4 linked regions of the Homo sapiens genome follow. The protein of the gene in region 1 purifies or fractionates together with the protein of each later gene. This does not show direct contact. Each region holds a gene or a part of one and is shown on either strand. Other genes may lie near its edges. The genes, in order: DCAF12, MCMBP, MOV10 and GOLIM4.

The links.
Region 2: the proteins of DCAF12 (region 1) and MCMBP purify together in Homo sapiens (affinity purification with mass spectrometry; 2 studies listed by BioGRID and IntAct, with this or other methods). This does not show direct contact.
Region 3: the proteins of DCAF12 (region 1) and MOV10 purify together in Homo sapiens (co-immunoprecipitation; 3 studies listed by BioGRID and IntAct, with this or other methods). This does not show direct contact.
Region 4: the proteins of DCAF12 (region 1) and GOLIM4 purify together in Homo sapiens (affinity purification with mass spectrometry; 2 studies listed by BioGRID and IntAct, with this or other methods). This does not show direct contact.

The regions. Positions count from the first base shown.
Region 1 is NC_000009.12:34,123,674-34,131,305, reverse strand, and holds the start of DCAF12 (DDB1- and CUL4-associated factor 12), read left to right. Parts: upstream 1-4,607; 5' UTR 4,608-4,874; coding exon 4,875-4,952; intron 4,953-6,028; coding exon 6,029-6,283; intron 6,284-7,632. UniProt on the Homo sapiens protein: Substrate-recognition component of a DCX (DDB1-CUL4-X-box) E3 ubiquitin-protein ligase complex of the DesCEND (destruction via C-end degrons) pathway, which recognizes a C-degron located at the extreme C terminus of target proteins, leading to their ubiquitination and degradation.
Region 2 is NC_000010.11:119,828,931-119,834,860, reverse strand, and holds the end of MCMBP (mini-chromosome maintenance complex-binding protein), read left to right. Parts: intron 1-2,760; coding exon 2,761-2,849; intron 2,850-3,260; coding exon 3,261-3,387; 3' UTR 3,388-5,421; downstream 5,422-5,930. UniProt on the Homo sapiens protein: Associated component of the MCM complex that acts as a regulator of DNA replication.
Region 3 is NC_000001.11:112,691,642-112,698,667, forward strand, and holds part of MOV10 (helicase MOV-10), read left to right. Parts: intron 1-23; coding exon 24-158; intron 159-1,119; coding exon 1,120-1,288; intron 1,289-2,376; coding exon 2,377-2,531; intron 2,532-2,811; coding exon 2,812-2,988; intron 2,989-3,107; coding exon 3,108-3,255; intron 3,256-3,774; coding exon 3,775-3,933; intron 3,934-4,506; coding exon 4,507-4,610; intron 4,611-4,795; coding exon 4,796-4,893; intron 4,894-4,988; coding exon 4,989-5,205; intron 5,206-6,352; coding exon 6,353-6,470; intron 6,471-6,645; coding exon 6,646-6,837; intron 6,838-6,996; coding exon of another isoform or gene 6,997-7,026.
Region 4 is NC_000003.12:168,008,925-168,015,950, reverse strand, and holds part of GOLIM4 (Golgi integral membrane protein 4), read left to right. Parts: intron 1-5,127; coding exon 5,128-5,208; intron 5,209-5,532; coding exon 5,533-5,682; 3' UTR 5,683-7,026. UniProt on the Homo sapiens protein: Plays a role in endosome to Golgi protein trafficking; mediates protein transport along the late endosome-bypass pathway from the early endosome to the Golgi.

The sequences.
Region 1 (7,632 bases):
ACTTGAGGTCAGGAGTTCTAGACAAGCCTGGCAAACATGGGGAAACCCTGCCTCTACTGAAAATACAAAAATTAGGGCCAGGAGTGGTGGCTCACGCCTGTAATCCTAGCACTTTGGGAGGCCGAGGCAGGCGGATCACCTGAGGTCGGGAGTTCGAGACCATCCTGACCAACATGGAGAAACCCCATCTCTACTAAAAATACAAAAACATTAGCCAGGCGAGGTGGTGGGCACCTGTAATCCCAGCTACTCAGGAGGCTCAGGCAGGAGAATCGCTTGAACTCAGGAGGCAGAGGTTGCAGTGAGCTGAGATTGCACCATTGCACCCAGCCTGGGCAATGAAGCGAGACTGTCTCACAAAAAAAAAAAAAAAAAAAAAAGAAAAGAAAAGAAAAATGAAAGAAATTTCCAGGCTAGGCATGGTGGCTGATGCCTGTAACCCCAGCACTTTGGGAAGCCGAGGTGGGTGGATGACCTGAGGTCAGGAGTTTGAGACCAGCCTGGCCAACACGGTGAAACCCTATCTCTACCAAAAATACAAAAATTAGCCAGGTGTGGTGGCGCAGGCCTGTAGTCCCAGCTACTTGGGAGGCTGAGGCAGGAGAATTGCTTGAACCCGGAAGGCAGAGGTTGCAGTGAGCTGAGATCGTGCCACTGCACCCCAGCCTGGGTGGGAGAATGAGACTCTGTCTCAAAAAGAAAAAAAAGAAATTTCCAGAACCTCAGAAGGCTCCCTGAGGTCCCCTGCCAGTTAGTAATCCCGCTTAAGGGTAATGACTGATTTCTCTTACCATGGATCAGTTGTGCCTGTTTTCATACTTCAAAAACATGAAATTAGGCATTTACTAATTACATTTAGGAATTACTGCTTTGGTTGGCCTCAGTGTCTCATACCTGTAATACCAGCACTTTGGGAGGCCAAGGTGGGAGGATCGCTTAAGCCCAGGAGTTTAAGACCAGCCTGGGCAACCAGGCGAGACCCTGTCTCTACAAAAGATAAAAAATAAGCTGGGTGTGGTGGCACATGCATGCCATGCCACTGCACTCCAGCCTGGGCAACAAAGCGAGAACTTGTCCCTCAAAAAATAAAAATAAAAAAAGGAATTACTGCTTTGTGTTTGACTTTTTTGGAGACAGGTCTGGATCTCCCAGGCTGGAGTGCAGTGGCATGATATTGGCTCTCCACCTGCAACCTCCACCTTCTGGGCTCAAGCTATCCTCCCACCTCAGCCTGCCAACTCCCAAGTAGCTGGGACTACAGGTACATGCCACCCCACCCAGCTAATTTTTGTATGTTTCTATAGAGACAGGATTTTCCCATGTTGCCCATGCTGGTCTCAAACTCCTGAGTTCAAGCAATCTACCTGCCTCAGCCTCCCAAAGTGCTAGGATTACAGGGGTGAGCCCCGTGCCCAGCAGTGTGTTTGATTTTTTTTTCTTTTCTTTTCTTTTTTTGAAACGGAAACTCATTCTGTTGCCCAGGCTGGAGTGCAGTGGCTCGATCTCGGCTTACTGAAGCCTTGGTCTCCTGGGTTCAAGCGATTCTCCTGCCTCAGCCTCCTGAGTAGCTGGGACTACTGGCGGGCACCACCATGCCCAGCTAATTTGTGTATTTTTAGTAGAGAGGGGGTTTCACCATGTTGGCCAGGCTGGTCTCAAACTCCTGACCTAAGGTGATCCACCCGCCTTGGCATCCCAAAGTGATGGGATTACAGGTGTAAGCCACCACGCCTGGCCTGATATCTTTTATGCAATATTATAAAATTCATTCACACAGTTTTGTCAAGGTGAAATAAAATATATAGATGAATCTCTAAAATTAAAATGTTTTGTGAAGCAGGAATTGTAATTCAGGGCACACGCAGACTGGGTGGTCTTTGCCATGTCTGCAGAACAAAGAGAAGGTTGGAAGTTTTGTAAAAAGGAAGTGTTATGTATTGCTCTTCAAGAAAGTTCACTGGCACTAGTAAGGTTTTGGAGAGCTGGCAAGTTTTGATTGGTAAGTGAAGGCAATAAGTAAAACTATTTCTGAGAGTCACAGTAGGTTGTTTTAACAGCTATTAGATAAAACTGCTTTCAGATTATAGCACGCAGTTTCAGCAGTGAGGCTCACTAAGAATGCCATTCTTGGAGTAGTTACATGCCCTGAGTACTTTTTCCCCCAGCCACTCTACTACTTTATTATTGTTATCATTATTATTTTATTATTTTATTTTTTACACAGGGTCTTGCTCTGTCACCCTGGCTGGAGTCCAGTGGCATGATCTCAGCTCACTGCAACCCAGCTACTCAGGAGGCTGGTCTCGAACTCCTGACCTCAGGTGATTGGCCCAACTCGGCCTCCCAGTGTGCTGGGATTACAGGCGTGAGCCACCGCACCTGGCCTGCAGTCTTTTAAAGGCAATTGTCAATTAAATTTCCAAAATGGACTTTCATTCTGTTATTTGAATAGAAATGGTGAGCTCTTGGCCAGCCGTGGTGGCTCATGCCTGTAATCCTAGCACTTTGGGAGGCCGAAGTGGGCGGATCACCTGAGGTCAGGATTTTGAGACCAGCCTGGCCAACATGGCGAAACCCCATCTCTACTGAAAATACAAAAATTAGTGGGCAACCATCCTGGCTAACATGGTGAAACCCCGTCTCTACTAAAAATACAAAAATTAGTGGGCAACCATCCTGGCTAACATGGTGAAACCCCGTCTCTACTAAAAATACAAAAAATTAGCCAGGCGTGGTGGCGGGCGCCTGTAGTCTCAGCTATTCGGGAAGCTGAGCCAGGAGAATGGCGTGAACCCAGGAGGCGGAGCCTGCAGTGAGCCGAGATCGCACCACTGCACTCCATCCTGGGCGACAGAGCGAGACTCCGTCTCAAAAAAGAAAAAAAAAAATTAGCTGGGCAACGTGGCGAGCACCTGTAATCTGAGCTACTCAGGAGGCTGAGGTAGGAGAATCACTTGAACCCAGGAGGCAGAGGTTGCAGTGAGCCGAGATCGTGCCACTGCACTCCAGCCTAGGCTACAGAGTGAGACTCCATCTCAAAAAAAAAAAAAGAAAAGAAATCGCGAGCTCTGCTATAAGGTACATTTGGGGATGGTTCCTAGGTTGTGAAGATGAAGTAAAGGAACTTTGAGAAAGAGACTGCAGCAGTGCCCAGTGTGCCCCTCTTGGCACTGACAGCCCAATCTGAGCCTAGAGATTCTCAAAGGATTCCAGACTCTTGCCCAGGGGCTCTTGGGTCATCCAGAGCATTGCGGGGCAAGACAGAATTAGAACAGACTCAAAAAAGAAAGCTGACCCACTCCTGACCCACTCACTATGTGCATATCTCTAAAGGGACAGGCCTGACCAAATAAGATGGAGCTGCCTTTCGCAAGACATTAGGGGTTAGTGGTAGTGCCGACTTGGGATGGCAGGAGACCCTGCTTCAATCTGGTCTTTGATTCGGCTTGGAAAACAAATCCAAATCTCCTTGTTGACAGAACTTGAGATGGTCCAACAGAGCTCCTTGGAGGTATGAGGCCTGAGGCCTGAAGCCTGAAGTGACCAGCAGGTAACTGGGCACCACAGCCTGAGGCCAATCAGCCCCAAGCAAGAGCATCCTGCTTCCTCAGAGGGTTTGTTTGCTTGAGGAAAGCGAAGGCTGGCAGTCATATTCCTTCAGGATCTTCCAAAAATGTTGGCAAGGGTGATCCTGATGAAGCCCCCTTGTTTGGAGGCCAATGCCAGCTCTAACTGGACTGGCAAGCCAAAAATGACCACTCTCTTTCCTGTAGTTCAGAATTCCCGACCTGCCCTAATGGAGACGCAACCTGAATCCAAGAGTGAGGCAGGCAGCTACAGATAAGTTTACAGCGTGATGACTACTTCATAAAGCACAAAAGACCATGTGGTTTAGATGGCAGGTCATGGAAATCTAAAGGGAATGGTGAAGTTGCACCGTAAGGGGAAGGTGACTGAGGAGCTGAAACTGACTGAGGGGCTGAAGCATTTCGGACAGGAGAAAGGATCAGGAGGAGACAGAGCGGAGAATGGAGCCTCAGGGCTACCCAGCGGTGGGAAGAGGGTAGCCAGAGACTCGTAGGGCGGCCTGGGTTGGTTGTGCTGGGCAGGTTCTCAGTGGTGGGAAAGTCTGGCCACACTGCCCTGACTTCCTGACTGGACTTCACCTCGAGGGTGGGAGCGGTTCCTGCCCCCCACCCCCCCACCCCCCTGTCCAGCCCTTGGAGCCAGGGCACGGTTTGTGACAGATTCAGGGAAACGTTTGGTGCCAGATGGGAGGTAACCGGGTTAAGGCCTGCACTAGGGAGGATTCCTTCCCCCAGCAGCACTGGTGGTCCTCACTTCCGGGTGCCTGCGGATAGGCGGGCTGGGGTCGGAGGTCGGCGGCCAGAAGCCAGATTCCCTTGGCCCCAGCTCGTCCACTTCCATCCAGCAGTAGCCAAACAACCGTTGAAAATGGCCTGGCGGCGGCCGGGAAACACCAGAGAACTATCTTCCAACCCCTAGATCCCGCCCATCTCGTTCCGGCGGTGTTTCCGTGGCGACGCTATCCGAAGTGCGGCTGCGCAAGGGTGACGGCGCGCGAGCAAGGGGGAGGGGGTGTTTTGGTTCTAGCCGCTCGCCGTCCTTGCAGGCTCTGCCGTCGGAAAGCCGCTCATTCTCGCTTCCCCTTCCCTTTCCCGGCTCAAGTCCTTCCTCTCTCTTTCCTTTCTTTCCGCCTATCTTTTTTCTGCTGCCGCTCCGGGTCCGGGCCATTTTCCGGGCCGGGCGCACTAAGGTGCGCGGCCCCGGGGCCCAGTATATGACCCGCCGTCCTGCTATCCTTCGCTTCCCCCGCCCCATGTGGCTGCGGGGCCGCGGCGGCGCTGCCCACTATGGCCCGGAAAGTAGTTAGCAGGAAGCGGAAAGCGCCCGCCTCGCCGGGAGCTGGGAGCGACGCTCAGGGCCCGCAGGTGAGGGTTGAGAGGCCGGCACCTGGGTGGTGAGGCTGAGGAACCAAGATGGGCTTAGGGTCCGCAGATCCTGCGACGGGAATCGGGGTCCAGGGTCTGCAGTCAGAGGCAAAACAGGAATGGGTTCAGGGCCTATAGGGTCAGGACTGGACCCTCGTTAACTGGAGGGCAGATAGGCCAGGGCGGTGAGGAGCCAAAGGGGAACTCAGGAATGGGACATAATCCGCGGGAGGCCTGCATTCGTGGATAGGGCTTGAAAAGAAACCAGAATCTTGGCTTTGGAGGAAGGGGAAACCGAAGTTAAGGGAATCGGAAACAAACTCTGGTAGAGTGAACTCTACCTTCCATGGGCCCTAGGAAGCTGGGATGATTGCGTCCCTCCTGGAAGAAGGAAGTAGTCTCCCTATATGTATACCCAACCCTGAGCTGGGCCTTTCGGCGTTTGGACCCCAAAAGAAACAACAGTTCCCAGGTATCATCTCTATGCCGCCCCCTTTGGAGGGGAAGGCCTTCTTGGACATAGATATGGCCTCTGATTTCCCGGGGGCCTACTACCCCGTTGGCGGTTGATTTTTCGAATTCTGCAACTGCCTGGAGCGCGGGCATGATGACAGAGGAACGGTCATTGATGATGCATCCCTGGAAGACCTGGGAGCCAGGTCTGGCTCCTTGGACTGTATCTTCCGTGCTCCAGTGGGAGTACAGACTGAGAGGGAGAAGGGGGCTGGGTAGAGATGCAGCCCATGTCGGTATGGGAATCACTCTACCTCTCATTTCCTTCAATCTTTCACTCCTAAAATGTCTAGTAAACCTTTTAGTCTGTTCTATTCTGCATTCATTCCCTTGACTTTCAGCCCTTGTAATTCACATTGGTAAGTTTGACTGTGAGCAACATCTTTTTAATGTTGGAAGAGTTAAACGACTTTCTGGATTGAGATTCTTGTTCTCTTGTGTTTGTATTTGTGTTGTTTGTAAATTCTGCAGTATGAGTTATGAGTTGGTGATTTCTGTAATACAGTAGGATCTGTTCTGAAGAAGAGTAGCCAAAGCCCTGATTTCTAATGTTGTTTCCACAGTTTGGCTGGGATCACTCGCTTCACAAAAGGAAAAGACTTCCTCCTGTGAAGAGATCCTTAGTATACTACTTGAAGAACCGGGAAGTCAGGCTACAGAATGAAACCAGCTACTCTCGAGTGTTGCATGGTTATGCAGCACAGCAACTTCCCAGTCTCCTGAAGGAGAGAGAGTTTCACCTTGGGACCCTTAATAAAGTGTTTGCATCTCAGTGGTTGAATCATAGGCAAGTGGTGTGTGGCACAAAATGCAACACGGTAAGTGCCTGGGGGGATGTGACCTCTCTCCTAGGTCGTGGATATATTGCTCCACTTGCTCTAGAACCTCTGCTAGTTTTCCCGTCTGTTTCTTTTAGGAGGGACTTGCCTTACTCTCCTTTCCATTCTTTCCCGTTGGTGACTTCTTCCTCTTTTCGTGTTCCTTTTTTCACTCATACATTTCTTTTCTGATAAGTCCTCAAAGGAGTGTATTTCTTCAGGCCCTCTCTGGATGTGCTGCTTCTAGAGGGTTGTTTGTTTGTTTGTTTGTTTTTGCCTCATATTTTTATGCTGGTTTTTAAGTCATAGGCCTCAAAGGAAAGATTTAAGAAATAATGATGCTTAGAGCATCATTCAGGATACATAATAGTGAAAACAGCCTAAGAACGTATGTCGAAGTATTTAAAATAGCACACTTGGCTGTTTTTTAGTGAACAGAATCTAAAAATGTATAAACTGAAATATGAGAAATACATGAACTGTTTCCTATAAGGAAGGCAGGGAATGTGTGTCTGGTAGTATATTTCAGGGTATAAGCATTAGCTCTTTGGAAAGTAGCCTTTTTAAGAGTGAATAGAAAGACAGTTATAAATGAATGAAGTGAAAAATTTCTCAGTAAGCTTTGTAACCAACCCAATTATAGGCCAGGATAAAATAAGTCAAAGAGCAGAAACGTTTGGAATAGAGTCCACGAATAGCATGATGTCACAAGACTGGCAAATGAAAAGAGGCAGGGCCTAGGGCCTAGGGGTGGGAAATGATTACGCCCAGCCCTCCCTCGGTTTTCACCTCCCCTGTGTGAATGGACAAGTAATGTCATAATGTGTGAGTAAATTGACCCTGGAATGAAACACATTTTGGATCATTAAAAGAGAGAAGATTGCTCTAGATCAAGAAAGTCTTAAGTACTAGGAGAAGTGTCTGTTTATAAAGGACATAGGCAAAAATTTAAACAGTTTTAAGGAAGGAAATAATACCATGGTGGTTGGTCTGTTTATAAAGGACATAGGCAAAAATTTAAACAGTTTTGAGGAAGGAAATAATACCATGGTGGTTGGGGCCAACCTTTCGTTTCCTCTTCTGTTGAGGAGTCGCTTGTCTTACCCAGAAGCCTTTCAAAACTAAGTGGTGGCAACGGGCCTCCACAGAACTTCCTTTTCTTGGTCTCTCCAGCTGCCCACTCGTGGTTAAGAACTGTCATCCTTGTCACTTGGAGTAGAAAAAGAGTCTCCTGCTTGGAAGAGTTCATTCCACTCCCCGCACGTGCATCATAGTGTTTAGCCTAGCAAATATTACTGAATTGTAAACTGAATTAATCATCATAGCCTCTTGCTTGTTGAATTTATTGA
Region 2 (5,930 bases), on another chromosome or scaffold:
AGACAGGGTCTCGCTGTGTCATCCAGGCTAGAGTGCAGTGTTGTGATCATGGCTCACTGCAGCCTCAACCCCCCCAGGTTCAAGCGATCCTCCCACTTCAGCCTCCTGAGTAGTTGGGACCACAGGCATGTGCCACTGTGCCCAGCTAATTCTTTGTTTTTTGGGTTTTTTTGTTTTGTTTGGGTGTGTGTGTGTGTTTGTGTGTGTGCAGATAGGGGATCTCTTTATGTTGCCCAGGCTAGTCTCGAACTCCTGGGTTCAAGTGATCCTCTCTCCTTAGCCTCCCGAAATTCTGGAATTAGAGGTGTGAGCTACCTCGCCCAGCCCTCTTTTAAGTTTTTGTTTATCTGGGAATGTCTTAATTTCTCCTTAAGGCTAGTTTTGCTGGATGTAGAATTCTTGGTTTATAGTCTTTGTCTCATCATTTCGAATATGTCCTCCCACCACTTTCTGGCCTCTGGTTTCTACTGAGAAGCCAACTAGTTTCTGATAAGGATCCTTTGTACACACTGAGTCATTTTTCTGTCACTGCTTTCAAGATTTTGTGGCTTTTGACAGTTTCGATTATGATGTGTCTATGTGTGGATCTCTGAGTTTATCCTACATGGAGTTTGTTGAGCTTCTTGGAGGTGCAGAATAATTCATATTTTGGGGAAGTTTTCAACAAGTTTGGGAAGGTTTTGGCCATGTTTCTTTCTGCCTCATTTCTCTCTGCTCTCCTTCTGACACTACCACTGTGTATCTGATGTTGCATTTAATGGTATCCCACAGGTCTTCAAGGCTCTGTTCATTTTCCCTCATTCTTCTTTTTTTGTTCTGTTTCTTAGACTAATCTCAGTGAACTTATCTTCAAATTTAGTGATTTTCTTCTGCCTGATCAAATCTGAGCACCTCTAGAGAATTTTTACTATATTTTTCAACTCCAGAATTTTTATTTCCTTCTTCTAAAAAATTATTTCTCTCTTTTTATTGATACTCTCTATTTGGTGATTCTCATATTTTCCTGAAGTTCTTTTTATGTGGTTTCCTTTATTTCTTTGAATGTTTAAAATAGCCAATTTAGAGTCTTTTTGTCTAATGTTTGAGTTTCCTCTGGGACAGTTTTCTACTGACTCCCTTATCCCCAAAGTGTGAGCCATACCTTCTGGTTTCTTTGTACTTTTTTGTTGAAAACCAGACATTTTATTTGGTCAGTGGGGTCTCACTGTATCACCCAGGCTGGAATAGTAAGTAGCACAGCCACAGCTCACTGCAGCCTTAAACTGCTGGGCTCAAGTGATCCTCTTGCCTCAGTAGCTGGGACCATAGGTGTGCACCACCATGCCCAACTAAAGTTTTGTTTTTTTGTTTTTTCTTTTCTTTTTTTTTCTTTCTTTTTTTTTTTGTAGTGATGAGGTCTTGCTTTATTGCCTAGGCTGGTCAACTCCTGGCTTCAAGTAGTCCTCCCACCTTGGCCTCCCAATGTGTTGGGATTACAGGTGTAAGCCACCACATCTAGCCACAACCAGACATTTTAAATTATATAATATGGCAACTCTGCTTTGGAAGTTACTCTGGAAATTAAACCTCCCTAGGGTTTATTGTTGTTGCTGTTTGTTACTGTTGGTAGGTTGTTTAGTAACTTTTTTGACTAATTCTATAAAGTCTGTATCTTTGTCACATGTGGGCACTGAAGTCTCTGCTCTGTTAGTTTTGTGGTTAATGATTGGAAAGAAATTTCCTTAAATGCTGGGTAGTAGTCTCCCAGTCTACGGGTGAATAATAATCATAAATAAAAATAAAAGTTGGGGCAAGCCCTCAGTTCAACACTTAGCCATGCAATTTACAAGCCTTAGCCTTCATTTCCTGCTCGCACAGAGCCTCCAGGTCATGCAGAGGTGGGAGCTATGGTCTCTGAGCATGTCTGCAGCCTTCTGAGTTCCTAGGAGTTACATACTTAAGGTTTTCAGAGCCCTCTACAGACATGTCATTTCCCAGCTAGCTTTTCCATTGAAGGGTTTGGGTTAGTCTGTCTGCCGCAGCTGTTACCCAGTGTCTCAGGTAGCTAAGGTGATTGGTAATTTCTTCCGATTGTTTTTGATAAATGCCCTGGGGAAAGAGGTGGTTCATAGTAGACAGGCTTCCAGTCAGGTTAAATAAAGACAACCTTGCAAATGGGTCCTTCCAGGGAGCCACCAGACAGGTGGTCAGATGACAGTTCTCCGGGAATGGCACTTGGAAGGAGCCCTAGCCCTGTTCTCTCTCCGGTGGCTGCCAGGCTGTTGATTTTTGAAGCTACTAATTATCGCCTGGAGGGGAAGGGGTTGGAATTTAGGAGTAGGACATGTTAAAATGCTGCCAGGCTCAACATTCTTACCAATAATCACCTGGTTTTCTTGCATAAATGCTCTCTGGATTGCTGCAAGTATGGTTTTATTTCTAGTTTTTAAAAAGCTGATTTTGATCAGTGTTAACAGTAGAGACAGTTTTCTGCGGTCCCTTCTCTGCCATTTTCACTAACATCACTCTTCCTTTGTGGAAAAGCATTGTTTCCTATGCCAGTTGCTGATTTATATGTTTGCTTGACCTTAAATGAATCTGAGTTTCATTATTTTATTTTCATCAGCAGCATTATGTATGTATATGCTTTGGTACTTTCACCCATATTGCCTCCTTTGTCTAAGAGGCTGACATGCACCTTACTACATCAGTCAAGGAACCATGTTAATTTTCTTTTCCTTACAAAAATGCACATCATTTACATTTACTCTTTTGATAAAGGCAGTTGAAGATGACTTTGTGGAAATGCGGAAGAACGACCCTCAGAGCATCACTGCTGATGATCTTCACCAGCTGCTCGTGGTGGCTCGGTAAGTGGCGCACGTCCATTATTGCTGTTTCGGTAAGCTTGTGTATATGTCTTCTGAGTTATTCAGCAGTAACTGAGGCAGAATTCTAAAAACGGAAATGAACTTTTCCTTTTAAAAACGCTGTATGAAAGGGCTCATTGAGGGGGAATCGAGTTTGGCTGGTGATCTCTTCAGTGGAACAGGCATGCTGCTTGTTCTCTAAGCTTCAAAGAGTGAGCCACTTTCCAATTCTGACTCTTCAACGATTTCTTTTTAGAAGCCTAACTTGGCTGTTGACTTGTGTGTAACTACCATACGGTCTTGTCTCCTAACGTGCTCTGTGTTTTCACAAAGTATTCCTAGGTCTTAAAAAAAATTTAAAACTTACTATCCCAGCTCTAGACTTAAATTTGTTTCTGTGTTTCAAACCAGGTGTCTGTCTCTCAGTGCTGGTCAGACAACGCTGTCAAGAGAACGATGGCTGAGAGCAAAGCAGCTAGAGTCTTTAAGAAGAACGAGGCTTCAGCAGCAAAAATGTGTGAATGGAAATGAACTTTAAAGATGTAATACCTATGAAGAGTAATGGGCAAACTGTAGCCACATAATTGTAAAATTCAGATATTCATTTATACCACATTGTTTTATAGGTAATTTCTATCACAAACCAGTGACATTTCCTGAAATCAAGCCTGGTAACACCTGATGTTTATATGATATTCAGTAAGGACTTTTACCTTACTGATTTCATGGAGCTTTTGAAGTTTGTTTTATAATAATTATATAAATTAGTAATGATGTAAAAAAAGTATTTGATATTAAAAGTTTAATATTGATAATGTTGCTGATTGTACCATTTCCTTAGCTTCAGCTGAGTCATAGGCCAGACTGTTGAAATGCTGAAATGAAGAAGGTTGTTGCAGTTTCAAAGTCAGAGGAATCGTGCTTCGGATTTCTTATGTTTTCTAGTTCTCTGTTTTTCCAGTTCACAGTGGGTTGGGGTGCATTCAGTAGTCCATCTTTGGGGAACGGAGGCGTACTTGCCATTGATTCACATGACTACATGAAATTCTGTACTGTCATTTCCCAGATGTTTGGCCACAGAAACTTTTTCCCACTTAACATTTGTTAACAGCCTGCAAAACTAAACTTGTACATGGCAGTGGTTCCCAGACTTTTGTATTTTATGGACCGGTAGTAATATTTCCAAAAATCTGGGGTACTATAAGGTTGCCAATTTACCTTGCCAAGTAATCCGAATAAATCACTGTATTATCACCATTTTTTTCATAAAAGGAAAGGACAATCTATCTCTGAATAAGAGGAGTCCTTTAAACGGAATGAATGTGGCTTTTGGGGGCAAAAGAAACCAAGACACTACATTGTCTTTATTTTCTCCTATCCCAGTGCATTTGAGAACCATGCATAAGGGAATGCTGTGCTACAAAGCTGTGCCCAAATATGAAAACAAAATAGGAAACTTAAAAAGCAATACCCCCTTTAGAAAGTTTTTATTTTCTTAAATGTCATTGAGTTGCTTTGATTCTATTGGATTTTTGGCATTTTTTATGGGATCATCAGTTGGTTCCAAGTATGTTAGATCAGCTAACATCTGCTACTCCAGTAACAGCCTCGTACAACTGCAGGTAGGTTTTCTCCAGACCAATTAGTTTTAATAGAGCAAACTAACAACAGACTGTAGTAGCATGGTTATGGCAACCAGAATCTTCAGAAAGGTTAGGACATTACTTTTTAAGCTGTCAGTGGTATCAAATAACTTACCTAGTTGGAGGCAGATAAAGGATCCCTTACGTTTTTTCCTATAAGGCCTAAATTGAAATTGTTAACCAAGGAAACAGGGTCAGCCTTGAAAAATCAAGGAATTCATTGTACCTAATAACTGAAGTAAAAATAACTAGTTGTTCAACTTTTCCTAAACTCAAATCTATTTTTATAAACAAATGTAAATAATGTTTATATTAGAGTTGAACTGGTTTTCATTTTTATAACTGGTAGACTAGACCTTCCTTAAACTTTTAGAAATAAAATGAAGGCTTCACTGGATTTGTGAGGATAAAATACATTTTCTTTAATTGTCCTAGAGCAAAGTACATTAGTCACCATGTGTTTTTTGTGCCAATGTAAATTGTAATTTACCAAAGAAAAATACATACATTGCTTGGTCTTGCAGAAAAGTTCCCTTGAAAGAACCTTTCCAATAAATAAAACGTCCCAAATTAGCAGTACCTTGGGCTGTTTTTCATGAGTAAGAAGATTCACCATCCCATGTGATCTGTGTGGAAAAAGACCATGTCCTCTTGGTGGAAGACATGAGAGAGCTGAACTGAAGTGGAGGAGGTGGTGCAAGAGGGACCTTCCTGCTCAAGGCCCGCCCAGGCAGCGGAATGGAGTGCAGTGCTTGGCTGCAGAAACCCTTTGTCCCTCACCTATATATACACGGACAGTCAAGTTTGTTGCTCTAACGTAAGGCACAGCGTTAATCCTGTATGGCCAGGAAACTGAGTAGACTCCTGTGTAACCCTGTTTGGAACTTTGCCTTCTTAAAATGATTTTTCAAAGATCTCTTTCGAACTAATTTCTGTAGAGTTTAAACGTGTATTTTATCACCTAATGTTGGGTTGTATTTTCTCCCATGTTGGGAACCCTTAATATTTTCAGGACCCGGAAGAAAAGTTGGTAGAAGCAAGCATTCAGTTTTGAATGTTTGGATTTAAAGTATAGTTTCTGATCCATTTCCCTTTTTACATCATGAGTATATTTCAAAGGAGTAACATACTGGCAACAGCTAGACCAAGTGTTCAGTTATAGCAAATCTGCCGTTTACAAATTCTTTAATCTGTTATGCAAGGAATTCTCATACCCATTTGTCACTTTAAATTACAATGGTACTTTATTTTAATAATCACAAGATTTAACACGTAAAAAAAAAAGATAGCACTAATAAATAACAAAAGTGGAATGCTTATCAAAGTAACGACATAATGTTCAGTTGAGAATCAGTCACTTCAACAGAGTAAAGCTCTAAAGACACCAGACGAACCAATACTTGTTGGAATATGCCATACAACTTTCTTACTGTGGGGA
Region 3 (7,026 bases), on another chromosome or scaffold:
GTTTTCTTCCCTCGATTCTGCAGCGCTAAGGGCTATGACCTGGAGTTAAGTATGGCGCTGGGGACATACTACCCACCTCCCCGCCTCAGGCAGCTGCTCCCCATGCTTCTTCAGGGAACAAGTATCTTCACTGCCCCTAAGGAGATCGCAGAGATCAAGTAAGTACCATCCCTCTGCACCCCGCACTCTCCCGTCTTTTACCTACTGGCTTCTTTGCATTGCCCTGGCACCTCCGTCCTCAGCCTCCCAGGCTGTATTCATTCATTCCCTTACTGAGCACGCACCATACACCAAGCACCATTCAAGGTGAACCAGTCAAATGAAGGCCTGGCTCATTTTAATGGGGGACAATGAGCATTTTTGTTACAATTTCATGGAGTGATGAGTGCTGTGAAGAACTAAACAGGTCAGGTGTAAGTGGCTCATGCCTGTAATCTCAGCACTTTGGGAGGCCGAGGCAGGTGGATCATTTAAGCCCAAGAGTTCAAGACCAGCCTGGGGCAACATAGTGAGATTCTGTCTCTACAAAAAAAAATTTTAATTAGCCAAGTGTGGTGGCACATGTCTGTAGTCCCAGCTACTTGTGAGGCAGAGGTGGGAGAATTTCTTGAGCCCAGGAGGTTGAGGACACAGTGAGTGAGCCCAGATCATGCCACTGCACTCCAGCATGGGTGACAGAGCAAGATCTTGTCTCTAAAAAAGATGAACAGAACTATACTGAAACTAAAGCAGGGTTAGGGAATGGGTTGGTGCTGCTTTGCAGAAGGCCAGTTAGTCCTGGCCTGTTTGAGGTAGTGATGTTTGAACAGAGAAGGACATTTGAATGAGGTGAGGGTGGGAGTCATGAGAGGATTGGAGGAGAATGTTCTGGCCATAAGAGCCACCATGCAAATGCAAGTCGGGTGAGGTGGGGGCAGGGGCATCCAAGGAAGCAGGAGCCAAGGCTTCCTTCTTCAGGGCCTCTGACTCTCATCCACTTCTGTATCCCTCTAGTCTTCTCTGCTTTTTGACGCTAGTTCCAGAGCTTCAGGTGGGAGAAGGTGGATACTCCTGGGCATAGGGGTTGTCTGGCCCATCCTGTTCCTGCCCCCACTCACCCCTCCCAACCATCATTTCCAGGGCCCAGCTGGAGACAGCCCTGAAGTGGAGGAACTATGAGGTGAAGCTGCGGCTGCTGCTGCACCTGGAGGAACTGCAGATGGAGCATGATATCCGGCACTATGACCTGGAGTCGGTGCCCATGACCTGGGACCCTGTGGACCAGAACCCCAGGCTGCTCACGCTGGAGGTCAGGGCTCAGATTGAGTGTGAGGAGGGTGGGCTCAAGCCAGCCAAGCTAGAGGCTGTGGGCAGAACTATTCCTGACAGCAGGGCAGAACAAGAGGAAAGTTGAAGTGGTTCCCAGGGCTCCGCAAGAAGCAGGGTGGGCATCCTGTGCCCAAAGATGTGTTGGAGCAGGGAAATGGGGAAGATCTGGGTTCTAGTCCAGGCTTTGCTACCACCTTGGGTAAGTCCCTGGCTTTCTCTAAGCCTTAGTTCCCTTATCTGAAAAGCACAGAGCTGGACTGGATAATTCTTAGAGCTCTTTCTGGCTCTTGGATTTTCAATGTGTGCATATAAGCCCAAAATTACACACGAGAATGGATTTCTACACACAATTGCAGGTGGGAATTAGAGGGTGAGTTTGTTCAAGGAAAGATTACTGCAGGAAGTGAGTTTTGAACAAGTTTTTTGTTGTTGTTGTTTTTGTTTTGAGACAGGGTCTCACCCTGGTGCTCAGGCTGGAGTGCAATGGCATGATCTTGGCTCGCTTTAATCCCCGCCGCCCGGGCTCAAGTGATCCTCCCAAGTAGCTGGGACCACAGACATGCCCCACTACGCCTGGCTAATTTTTGTATTTTTTGTAGAGATGGGGTTTTGCCACATTGGCCAGGCTGGTCTCGCAACACCTGGACTCAAGTGATCCGCCTGCCTCAGTCTCCCAAAGTGCTGGGATTACAGGCGTGAGCCACCATGCCTGGTCCGTTTTTTTTTTTTTTTTTTTTTAATTATTTTTTTAGCAACCCGATTAACTGATGAACAGGATTTTTATAGGCAGAGCAGGAACTGAGCTGGCCAAGAGGGCAGCTGCACTGGAGGCTCCGGGTTCCTGGGCTCGGCATCTCTGGGCAGCTTCGGAGGATTTGTCTTCTTCCTCTTCCCCTGACTCCTGCTGGTATGAAAGGAAAGAGGGGTGCAGGGATAGCATAACTCCCTGAGTCTTAGGTTAGAAGGCCAGTCTCAGTCCTTGTCCCTTAAAGGTCTGGGGAACCTGGGGGCTGGGCCCTCCAGCGTCCATCCCTGGGACAGAAGCTTGCTTGTGTTCACACCCCATAGGTTCCTGGAGTGACTGAGAGCCGCCCCTCAGTGCTACGGGGCGACCACCTGTTTGCCCTTTTGTCCTCGGAGACACACCAGGAGGACCCCATCACATATAAGGGCTTTGTGCACAAGGTGGAATTGGACCGTGTCAAGCTGAGCTTTTCCATGAGGTGGGTGTTGGGGGAACCCTGAGCTGCTGGAAGGGTCTACAGACTTCTGACCCCAGGGGAGGAGGAGTGTTTCTCCCTGAGATAAATGAGACCCCGGGGCAGAGCAGGAGACTTTTCCTCAGGGGTACCCTGAGATGCTACGGCAGCTTCCTCTTCTAGAGAACTTGCATAGAGGTCTTGGAAAGAGGGGTTGGGACACTGGTTGGTGGAGAAAGTTCTGGCCCTTTATTGCCCACCTCCCCTGCCCCAACAAACTCTTACCACCTCTCTCTGCCCAAAGCCTCCTGAGCCGCTTTGTGGATGGGCTGACCTTCAAGGTGAACTTTACCTTCAACCGCCAGCCGCTGCGAGTCCAGCACCGTGCCCTGGAGCTGACAGGGCGCTGGCTGCTGTGGCCCATGCTCTTTCCTGTGGCACCTCGGGACGTCCCGCTGCTGCCCTCAGATGTGAAACTCAAGTGAGACTGTGGGCAGGGAGCTTCTGGAGCCACTTGGAGTGTGGGCACAGGGGGTGGAGTCAGGGAGGCCTCTGGGTCACTGGATGACTTCAAGTTCACATTCCTGGTCCCTCTGCCAGGCTGTACGACCGGAGTCTGGAGTCAAACCCAGAGCAGCTGCAGGCCATGAGGCACATTGTTACGGGCACCACCCGTCCAGCCCCCTACATCATCTTTGGGCCTCCAGGCACCGGCAAGACTGTCACGTTAGTGGAGGCAATTAAGCAGGTGGGGTCTGAGCACAAACCTGGGGCCTGCACTCTGATTCCCCCAGCACCAAGCAGTTGTCCCCAGATTCTAGTTCCTTCCCACTCCCGAAATGCTCCTGCTTCTAAGCAGCCATCAGAAAGAGAGGTAGGGGCCGGGTGCAGTGGCTCATGCCTGTAATCTCAGCACTTGGGGAAGACTAGCCCAAGGAGTTCAAGACCAGCCTGGACAATATTGCAAGACCCTATCTCTATGAAAAATATGAAAAATAGCTGGGCACTTGAGGCTGCAGTGCGATTGTGCCACTGCACTCCATCCTGGGTGACAGAGTGAGACTCTGTCTCAAAAAAAAGGGTGGGGATTGGGGAAGTGGGAAGTTAGGGTAAATGTGGCTGTGGAGCACTGTTGTACGGGTAGGGCACTGCATGAATCTTGGAGTCACCATTCACATTTCAGTCATCATAGACTTGCCCTGCCCCAGCCTGGGTACGGCTGAGTCTCAGGAACCTGCCTCCCACACTGCGCTTATCTGCATCTCAGGTGGTGAAGCACTTGCCCAAAGCCCACATCTTGGCCTGCGCTCCATCCAACTCAGGGGCTGACCTACTCTGTCAAAGGCTCCGGGTCCACCTTCCTAGCTCCATCTACCGCCTCCTGGCCCCCAGCAGGGACATCCGCATGGTACCTGAGGACATCAAGGTACTAGGGAAGTGCAGAGGGCCAAAGAATGGCAAATGCCGGGGAGGCTCTCAGGGCAGACACTGAGGCGAGGAAGCTAGGAGACCTGGATTCTGATACTTGCTATGTGACCTTGGGTTGGACAGGACCCCTCCCTGGGCCTCAGTTTGTCTGTAAGTGAGGGGGGTGGATAAAACATTTGGGGGGCTGGGTGCAGTGGCTTACACTTGTAATCCCAACACTTTGAGGGGCGAGGCAGATGGATTACCTGAGGTCTGGAGTTTGAGACCAGCCTGGCCAACATGGCAAAATCCCGTCTCTACTAAAAATACAAAAAAATCAGCTGAGTATGGTGGCGCGTGCCTGTAGCCCCAGCTACTCGGGAGGCTGAGGCACGAGAATTGCTTGAACCCAGGCGGCGGAGGTTGCAGTGGGCCAAGATCACACCATGGCACTCCAGCCTGGGGGACAGCGAGACTCCGTCTCAATTAAAAAAAATAAAAATAATTGTTTGAGGGGGGGTACCCACAGCCAGAATCACGGTGGGAATGAGTGGAGCCAAGCTGATTCCTCTGGTCCCTTCACAATCCACAGCCCTGCTGCAACTGGGACGCAAAGAAGGGGGAGTATGTATTTCCCGCCAAGAAGAAGCTGCAGGAATACCGGGTCTTAATTACCACCCTCATCACTGCCGGCAGGTGGGGAGTGTGTGTGGGTGTGTCTCTGAATCGTAAGTGTAATTAAAGGGGTACCGGGCTGGGGAAATGGGGAAGAATGGTTTCCGGAGTGGGGTGGTGGGTGCTGAGAAGCCAGCCTGGGAAAGCATTCAGGTTTGGTAGTTGGGTGCCTGGATATGACCCCTGCCTGGCCTGACACCTCCCAGGTTGGTCTCGGCCCAGTTTCCCATTGATCACTTCACACACATCTTCATCGATGAGGCTGGCCACTGCATGGAGCCTGAGAGTCTGGTAGCTATAGCAGGTGAGGGACTCAGGTGGGGCTGCAGGTATACACCCTGTGTGGGTCAGAGAGGTTGCACCACTTACCTTTCTTCCCACACCTCTTCTGCTTCCCAGGGCTGATGGAAGTAAAGGAAACAGGTGATCCAGGAGGGCAGCTGGTGCTGGCAGGAGACCCTCGGCAGCTGGGGCCTGTGCTGCGTTCCCCACTGACCCAGAAGCATGGACTGGGATACTCACTGCTGGAGCGGCTGCTCACCTACAACTCCCTGTACAAGAAGGGCCCTGATGGCTATGACCCCCAGTTCATAACCAAGCTGCTCCGCAACTACAGGTATTCCCATGCCCTTGCCTCCCCTGCCATATCCTATGCTTTCACATCCTGCATGCAGACCCCACTGGAGAGTCTGGCTTGCTGTCAGTCCTGTTGCTCAGAGGTTGTGTGATGCAGAAAGACTAAACTGGAAGGCAGGAGGTTTTTCTAGCCCCAGCACTGCTGCTTGTTGTCTGCGTGACTTAGCCAGTGGTTTCACACTACACCAGTCAGCTTATCTGCATCTTAGGGGGTGGTCAGTGGTTCCTAGAGGCTAGGGTGTGTCTGGTACCAGTCCCAGATGAAGTTTTCAGGCAATCCAAGGAGAGATAAGAAAAATAGGGAGGAGGTCGGGCACAGTGGCTCATGGCTGTAATCCCAGCACTTTGGGAGGCCAAGGTAGGTCAGGCTCCCACCCCCGATCACTTGAGGTCAGGAGTTTGAGACCAGCCTGTCCAACATGGTGAAACCCCATCTCTACTAAAAATACAAAAATTAGCCAGGCATAGTGACAGGCACCTGTAATTCCAGTTACTTGGGAGGCTGAGGCAGGATAATCGCTTGTACCCGGGAGGCAGAGGTTGCAGTGAGCTGAGATCGCGCTACTGCAGTCTAGCCTGGGTGACAGAGCGAGACTCCATCTCAAAAAAAGAAAGAAAAATAGGGAAGATACAGTTTTTTCATAAACCTATTGTTATTCAAATTAAAGAGCTGTATACTTTTAGTGAATGAGTTCAGCCATCTAAAATGCTTAGATAAGTTTTATGCTGTCACTAAGAGCTCAATAAATGTTAGTTATTGTGTCATCACTGCTTATATTTTTTGATTTAACACATGGTCTCATCAAATAACGTGATAGTCAAGGAGAATTTGGTTTCGTACTGTCCTTGGTAAATTTGAAACCTGAAAATGGGCCCCTAATTATTTAGTTTTAAATGTCATGGGTCTGTGGAGTCCCTGGACTAGATGCTCTCTGGAACTATATTTGGTTCTGCTTTCTGTGGTTTACAGTGCCTGGCAGCAGATATTATGGAGGAGTGTCCTGCTATCCAGGGAGCCAGCGGGGTAGCAGGCTATTGTGTGTGGGCCCAGAGTGGGTAGAGCGGAGCCCCTGTAGGGCAGAGGGAATCTGACCCTTGGTCTTGCTTTTCCTCCTCCGGCCTCCCAGGTCTCATCCCACCATCCTGGACATTCCTAACCAGCTCTATTATGAAGGGGAGCTGCAGGCCTGTGCTGATGTCGTGGATCGAGAACGCTTCTGCCGCTGGGCGGGCCTACCTCGACAGGTGAGGCTGAGCAGGGCAGGCCCCACCCCTGTACCCTGACTTCCCTCCCACTGAAGGTGCAGCCCCTCCCTTTGTCACCTTGGCCTAGGATCTCTTACTCTCTGGAAGGGTTTGGGAAGGGAGGGAATAGAGGGAGGGTGGTCTGGCTGACGGTTTCCCCCGACCCCATGTCCAGGGCTTTCCCATCATCTTTCACGGCGTAATGGGCAAAGATGAGCGTGAAGGCAACAGCCCATCCTTCTTCAACCCTGAAGAGGCTGCCACAGTGACTTCCTACCTGAAGCTGCTCCTGGCCCCCTCCTCCAAGAAGGGCAAAGCTCGCCTGAGCCCTCGAAGTGTGGGCGTCATCTCCCCGTACCGGAAACAGGTCAGGTCCTCAGTTACCAGCAAGGGTGGGGCCCCTCCCCCAGATGGTACCTCCTTAATATCCAGACCACTAGGCAGAGGCTCCAGGAGCTTAGGCCTCTGCTGGCTCCGTATCTCAGAAGAGCACCAAGGTCAGCTGCCGCCTCCCTTTGTTCCCCAGCTCCCTGGCCTCCTGCCAGGCTCCCTCTTG
Region 4 (7,026 bases), on another chromosome or scaffold:
GGTTTTCTTCCAGGGTTTTTATGGTTTTAGGTCTAACGTTTAAGTCTTTAATCCATCTTGACTTGATTTTTGTATAAGGTGTAAGGAAGTGATCCAGTTTCAGCTTTCTACATATGGCTAGCCAGTTTTCCCAGCACCATTTATTAAATAGGGAATCCTTTCCCCATTGCTTGTTTTTCTCAGGTTTGTCAAAGATCAGATAGTTGTAGATATGCGACGTTATTTCTGAGGGCTCTGTTCTGTTCCATTGATCTATATCTCTCTTTTGGTACCAGTACCATGCTGTTTTGGTTACTGTAGCCTTGTAGTATAGTTTGAAGTCAGGTAGTGTGATGCCTCCGGCTTTGTTCTTTTGGCTTAGGATTGACTTGGCGATGCGGGCTCTTTTTTGGTTCCATATGAACTTTAAAGTAGTTTTTTCCAATTCTGTGAAGAAAGGCATTGGTAGCTTGATGGGGATGGCATTGAATCTATAAATTACCTTGGGCAGTATGGCCATTTTCATGATATTGATTCTTCCTACCCATGAGCATGGAATGTTCTTCCATTTGTTTGTATCCTCTTTTATTTTCTTGAGCAGTGGTTTGTAGTTCTCCTTGAAGAGGTCCTTCACATCCCTTGTAAGTTGGATTCCTGGGTATTTTATTCTCTTTGAAGCAATTGTGAATGGGAGTTCACTCATGATTTGGCTCTCTGTTTGTCTGTTGCTGGTGTGTAAGAATGCTTGTGATTTTTGTACATTGATTTTGTATCCTGAGACTTTGCTGAAGTTGCTTATCAGCTTAAGGAGATTTTGGGCTGAGACAGTGGGGTTTTCTAGATATACAATCATGTCGTCTGCAAACAGGGACAATTTGACTTCCTCTTTTCCTAATTGAATAGCCTTTATTTCCTTCTCCTGCCTAATTGCCCTGGCCAGAACTTCCAACACTATGTTGAATAGGAGTGGTGAGAGAGGGCATCCCTGTCTTGTGCCAGTTTTCAGAGGGAATGCTTCCAGTTTTTGCCCATTCAGTATGATATTGGCTGTGGGTTTGTCATAGATAGCTCTTATTATTTTGAAATACGTCCCATCAATACCTAATTTATTGAGAGTTTTTAGTATGAAGGGTTGTTGAATTTTGTCAAAGGCTTTTTCTGCATCTATTGAGATAATCATGTGGTTTTTGTCTTTGGCTCTGTTTATATGCTGGATTACATTTATTGATTTGCGTATATTGAACCAGCCTTGCATCCCAGGGATGAAGCCCACTTGATCATGGTGGATAAGCTTTTTGATGTGCTGCTGTATTCGTTTTGCCAGTATTTTATTGAGGATTTTTGCATCAATGTTCATCAAGGATATTGGTCTAAAATTCTTTTTTTTTGTTGTGTCTCTGCCTGGCTTTGTATCAGAATGATGCTGGCCTCATAAAATGAGTTAGGGAGGATTCCCTCTTTTTCTATTGATTGGAATAGTTTCAGAAGGAATGGTACCAGTTCCTCCTTGTACCTCTGGTAGAATTCGGCTGTGAATCCATCTGGTCCTGGACTCTTTTTGGTTGGTAAGCTATTGATTATTGCCACAATTTCAGCTCCTGTTATTGGTCTATTCAGAGATTCAACTTCTTCCTGGTTTAGTCTTGGGAGAGTGTATGTGTCGAGGAATTTATCCATTTCTTCTAGATTTTCTAGTATATTTGTGTAGAGGTGTTTGTAGTATTCTCTGATGGTAGTTTGTATTTCTGTGGGATCGGTGGTGATATCCCCTTTATCATTTTTTATTGCATCTATTAGATTCTTCTCTCTTTTTTTCTTTATTAGTCTTGCTAGCGGTCTATCAATTTTGTTGATCCTTTCAAAAAACCAGCTCCTGGATTCATTAATTTTTTGAAGGGTTTTTTGTGTCTCTTTTTCCTTCAGTTCTGCTCTGATTTTAGTTATTTCTTGCCTTCTGCTAGCTTTTGAATGTGTTTGCTCTTGCTTTTCTAGTTCTTTTAATTGTGATGTTAGGGTGTCAATTTTGGATCTTTCCTGCTTTCTCTTGTGGGCATTCAGTGCTATAAATTTCCCTCTACACACTGCTTTGAATGCGTCCCAGAGATTCTGGTATGTTGTGTCTTTGTTCTCGTTGGTTTGAAAGAACATCTTTATTTCTGCCTTCATTTCGTTATGTACCCAGTAGTCATTCAGGAGCAGGTTGTTCAGTTTCCATGTAGTTGAGCGGTTTTGAGTGAGATTCTTAATCCTGAGTTCTAGTTTGATTGCACTGTGGTCTGAGAGAAGTTTGTTATAATTTCTGTTCTTTTACATTTGCTGAGGAGAGCTTTACTTCCCAGTATGTGGTCAATTTTGGAATAGGTGTGGTGTGGTGCTGAAAAAAATGTATATTCTGTTGATTTGGGGTGGAGAGTTCTGTAGATGTCTATTAGGTTCGCTTGGTGCAGAGCTGAGTTCAATTCCTGGGTATCCTTGTTGACTTTCTGTCTCGTTGATCTGTCTAATGTTGACAGTGGGGTGTTAAAGTCTCCCATTATTAATGCGTGGGAGTCTAAGTCTCTTTGTAGGTCACTCAGGATTTGCTTTATGAATCTTGGTGCTCCTGTATTGGGTGCATATATATTTAGGATAGTTAGCTCTTCTTGTTGAATTGATCCCTTGACCATTATGTAATGGCCTTCTTTGTCTCTTTTGATCTTTGTTGGTTTAAAGTCTGTTTTATCAGAGACTCGGATTGCAACCCCTGCCTTTTTTTGTTTTCCATTTGCTTGGTAGATCTTCCTCCATCCTTTTATTTTGAGCCTATGTGTGTCTCTGCACGTGAGATGGGTTTCCTGAATACAGCACACTGATGGGTCTTGACTCTTCATCCAATTTGCCAGTCTGTGTCTTTTAATTGGAGCATTTAGTCCATTTACATTTAAAGTTAATATTGTTATGTGTGAATTTCATCCTGTCATTATGATGTTAGCTGGTTATTTTGCTCGTTAGTTGATGCAGTTTCTTCCTAGTCTTGATGGTCTTTACAATTTGGCATGATTTTGCAGTGGCTGGTTCCGGTTGTTCCTTTCCATGTTTAGCGCTTCCTTTAGGAGCTCTTGTAGGGCAGGCCTGGTGGTGACAAAATCTCTCAGCATTTGCTTGTCTGTAAAGGATTTTATTTCTCCTTCGCTTATGAAGCTTAGTTTGGCTGGATATGAAATTCTGGGTTGAAAATTTTTGTCTTTAAGAATGTTGAATATTGGCCCCCACTCTCTTCTGGCTTGTAGAGTTTCTGCCGAGAGATCCGCTGTTAGTCTGATGGGCTTCCCTTTGAGGGTAACCCGACCTTTCTCTCTGGCTGCCCTTAACATTTTTTCCTTCATTTCAACTTTGGTGAATCTGACAATTATGTGTCTTGGAGTTGGTCTTCTCGAGGAGTATCTTTGTGGCGTTCTCTGTATTTCCTGAATCTGAACGTTGGCCTGCCTTGCTAGATTGGGGAAGTTCTCCTGGATAATATCCTGCAGAGTGTTTTCCAACTTGGTTCCATTCTCCCCATCACTTTCAGGTACACCATTCAGACGTAGATTTGGTCTTTTCACATAGTCCCATATTTGTTGGAGGCTTTGCTCATTTCTTTTTATTCTTTTTTCTCTAAACTTCTCTTCTCGCTTCATTTCATTCATTTCATCTTCCATCGCTGATACCCTTTCTTACAGTTGATTGCATCGGCTCCTGAGGCTTCTGCATTCTTCATGTAGTTCTCGAGCCTTGGTTTTCAGCTCCATCAGCTCCTTTAAGCACTTCTCTGTATTGGTTATTCTAGTTATACATTCTTCTAAATTTTTTTCAAAGTTTTCAACTTCTTTGCCTTTGGTTTGAATGTCCTCCCGTAGCTCAGAGTAATTTGATCGTCTGAAGCCTTCTCTCAGCTCGTCAATGTCATTCTCCATCCAGCTTTGTTCTGTTGCTGGTGAGGAACTGTGTTCCTTTGGAGGAGGAGAGGCGCTTTGCTTTTTAGTTTCCAATTTTTCTGTTCTGTTTTTTCCCCATCTTTGTGGTTTTATCTGCTTTTGGTCTTTGATGATGGTGATGTACAGATGGGTTTTTGGTGTGGATGTCCTTTCTGTTTGTTAGTTTTCCTTCTAACAGACAGGACCCTCAGCTGCAGGTCTGTTGGAATACCCTGCCTTGTGAGGTGTCAGTGTGCTCCTGCTGGGGGGTGCCTCCCAGTTAGGCTGCTCAGGGGTAAGGGGTCAGGGACCCACTTGAGGAGGCAGTCTGCCCGTTCTCAGATCTCCAGCTGCGTGCTGGGAGAACCACTGCTCTCTTCCAAGCTGTCAGACAGGGACATTTAAGTCTGCAGAGGTTACTGCTGTCTTTTTGTTTGTCTGTGCCCTGCCCCCAGAGGTGGAGCCTACAGAGGCAGGCAGGCCTCCTTGAGCTGTGGTGGGCTCCGCCCAGTTGGAGCTTCCCCACTGCTTTGTTTACCTAATCAAGCCTGGGCAATGGCGGGCGCCCCTCCCCCAGCCTTGCTGCCGCCTTGCAGTTTGATCTCAGACTGCTGTGCTGGCAATCAGCGAGATTCTGTGGGCGTAGGACCCTCCAAGCCAGGTGCGGGATATAATCTCGTGGTGCGCCGTTTTTTAATCCCGTCGGAAAAGCGCAGTATTTGGGTGGGAGTGACGCGATTTTCCAGGTGCCGTCCGTCACCCCTTTCTTTGACTCGGAAAGGGAACTCCCCGACCCTTTGAGCTTCCCAAGTGAGACAATGCCTCGCCCTGCTTTGGCTCGCGCATGGTGCGCGCACCCACTGACCTGCACCCACTGTCTGGCACTCCCTAGTGAGAGGAACCTGGTACCTCAGATGGAAATGCAGAAATCACTGTCTTCTGCGTCGCTCACACTGGGAGCTGTAGACCGGAGCTGTTCCTATTCGGCCATCTTGGCTCCTCCCTTATACATTTCTTCACACCTAGTAGATAAATCCTTGACATATTTTTTCAATTGTATATTTACTTTAATTTTGCTTCTGCTATTTTGAGTGAACTTTTTGGAAATCAAAATATATTATTGCAAGTCTTTAAATGATAACAGTGTCAAAATATATTATCGCAAGTGCTTGAAAGACAAAAGTGTTTAAATGATATCTGTGGTTTGTTTTAGGTTCAGGAAGATTTGACTGAAGAGAAAAAAAGGGAACTGGAGCATAATGCTGAAGAGACCTATGGTGAAAATGATGAAAATGTATGACCGGGATACATATTTCTATTGAGCACTTGAGTGTTTGTGGGTGTGCATGTGTATAGGAGAGATATATGTATTTGGGATACGTACCAGTGGGTAATGGTACCTCTGAGTTACCACTGAATTTAACAGGCCCACCTGAAATTAGGAAAAGTTGTGACAACATGAAAAGTAGGAGAGACAGCAGCACTGTTGCTTACATATCATTTTTCTTCCTTTTTTTTCCTCCAAAAATGAGTAATTTTTCATCCTGTTTTTAGAGAGAATTATTTATCACTAACTCTATACTATCTCTTAGTTTTTCTTTTTTCTTTTAATTTTAAGACTGATGATAAAAATAATGATGGAGAAGAGCAAGAAGTTCGAGATGACAACCGCCCCAAAGGCCGAGAGGAACACTACGAGGAGGAAGAAGAGGAGGAAGAAGACGGGGCTGCAGTTGCTGAGAAATCACATCGAAGAGCTGAAATGTAGCGGCACCCAATTTCTAGACAACGCTCAGCCAACGGATTCTTTTCAAGCTGCTCAAACATAAATCTGCCTACTGAACTCTAGGATATTTAATTACAAAAATTAAGAACTTAGACTTTTTTAAAACTTTTGTATTAGAAATGCGCATACATTTATATGAATATATTTTGATAACGTAGGTCTAGAGCTTCTTTTATATTCAAGCTAAACATGAAAAAGAAGAAAAACAATAAAGTAAACCTGAGCCCCCACGTCCCAATTTTTTTAATAGATTATGTGATGTTGGAAAGCTCATTGATTTTGTATATGTTTCAGCGTGTTACCTTTCTGGCTTCCAGTTCCCAGGTGTTCTTTGTTTGCCTTTGATAAAATACAGGATTTAAGAACAGAGAGTACTGCAAAATGCCATGCAGACTTTAAAGAGAATGGCCTGTTTACTAATTGCTGCCCTTCTGATGTCTTTATGTATAGCTCTGATAGAATTTTCACCAGTCTATGTATCTCTGGAGTGAGATCTATGTACAAAGTGACATACAATTGGAAATCCATTTTTGTTGTAAAGACATTGTTTTTCAGACTTTTCAGATCAATTAGAAAAATGTCATTGCTTTAAAATCATAGCTGTTCTGTTTAAGAGGAATTGAATTTAAAAATGAGAGAGTATTAAAACTCATGTGGCAGTATCCTGGTCTTAATCAGGTATTGCAGTGTTCAAACAAGGTATGGACACATCAACATATTCACCTTTTGGAAGGACTAGTGACTTGGTTAAAAACTAATGAGTGTTTGCGTGTGGTGTTTCTATGCGAGCACCCATTCTCAATTTTTTTTTTTTTTTTTTGTTTGAAGCCATTGATTGATATTCTTGTTTCAGTGTCTGGTTCCCTATAAGTAATATATATTTCCTCTTTAAGCTCTGTGCCTCAATATGCAATCACTTTGATAATAAGTATAAATATGAAGACATACCAAACTGCAAATAGGATTATTTTTCAAAACTATATGGTGAAACATATGGTGATATGATAGACTTATGGTTTTTCTGTTTGCTGGGATTGGGTCTGCTTTTTGCCTATGTGTAAGGCATTTTAATCATTGTGAATATAATAGATTCCTTAAAATAAGAAAATTAAAAATCAGAAACTTCCCTTGGAGTAGAGACATTTCAGTTGCAAGCATAAAGATTTTTAAATATATAACACTAGGTTATATAATTCATATATGTGTGGTTTTGTATTAATAATCAAATTAATAAAAACATTTCATTTTCTACCATTGTATGAACGTAATTTTATTTTTTAATAACCACACTCATAGATGGTTTTGATTGTTCCAGTTGAGTGATTG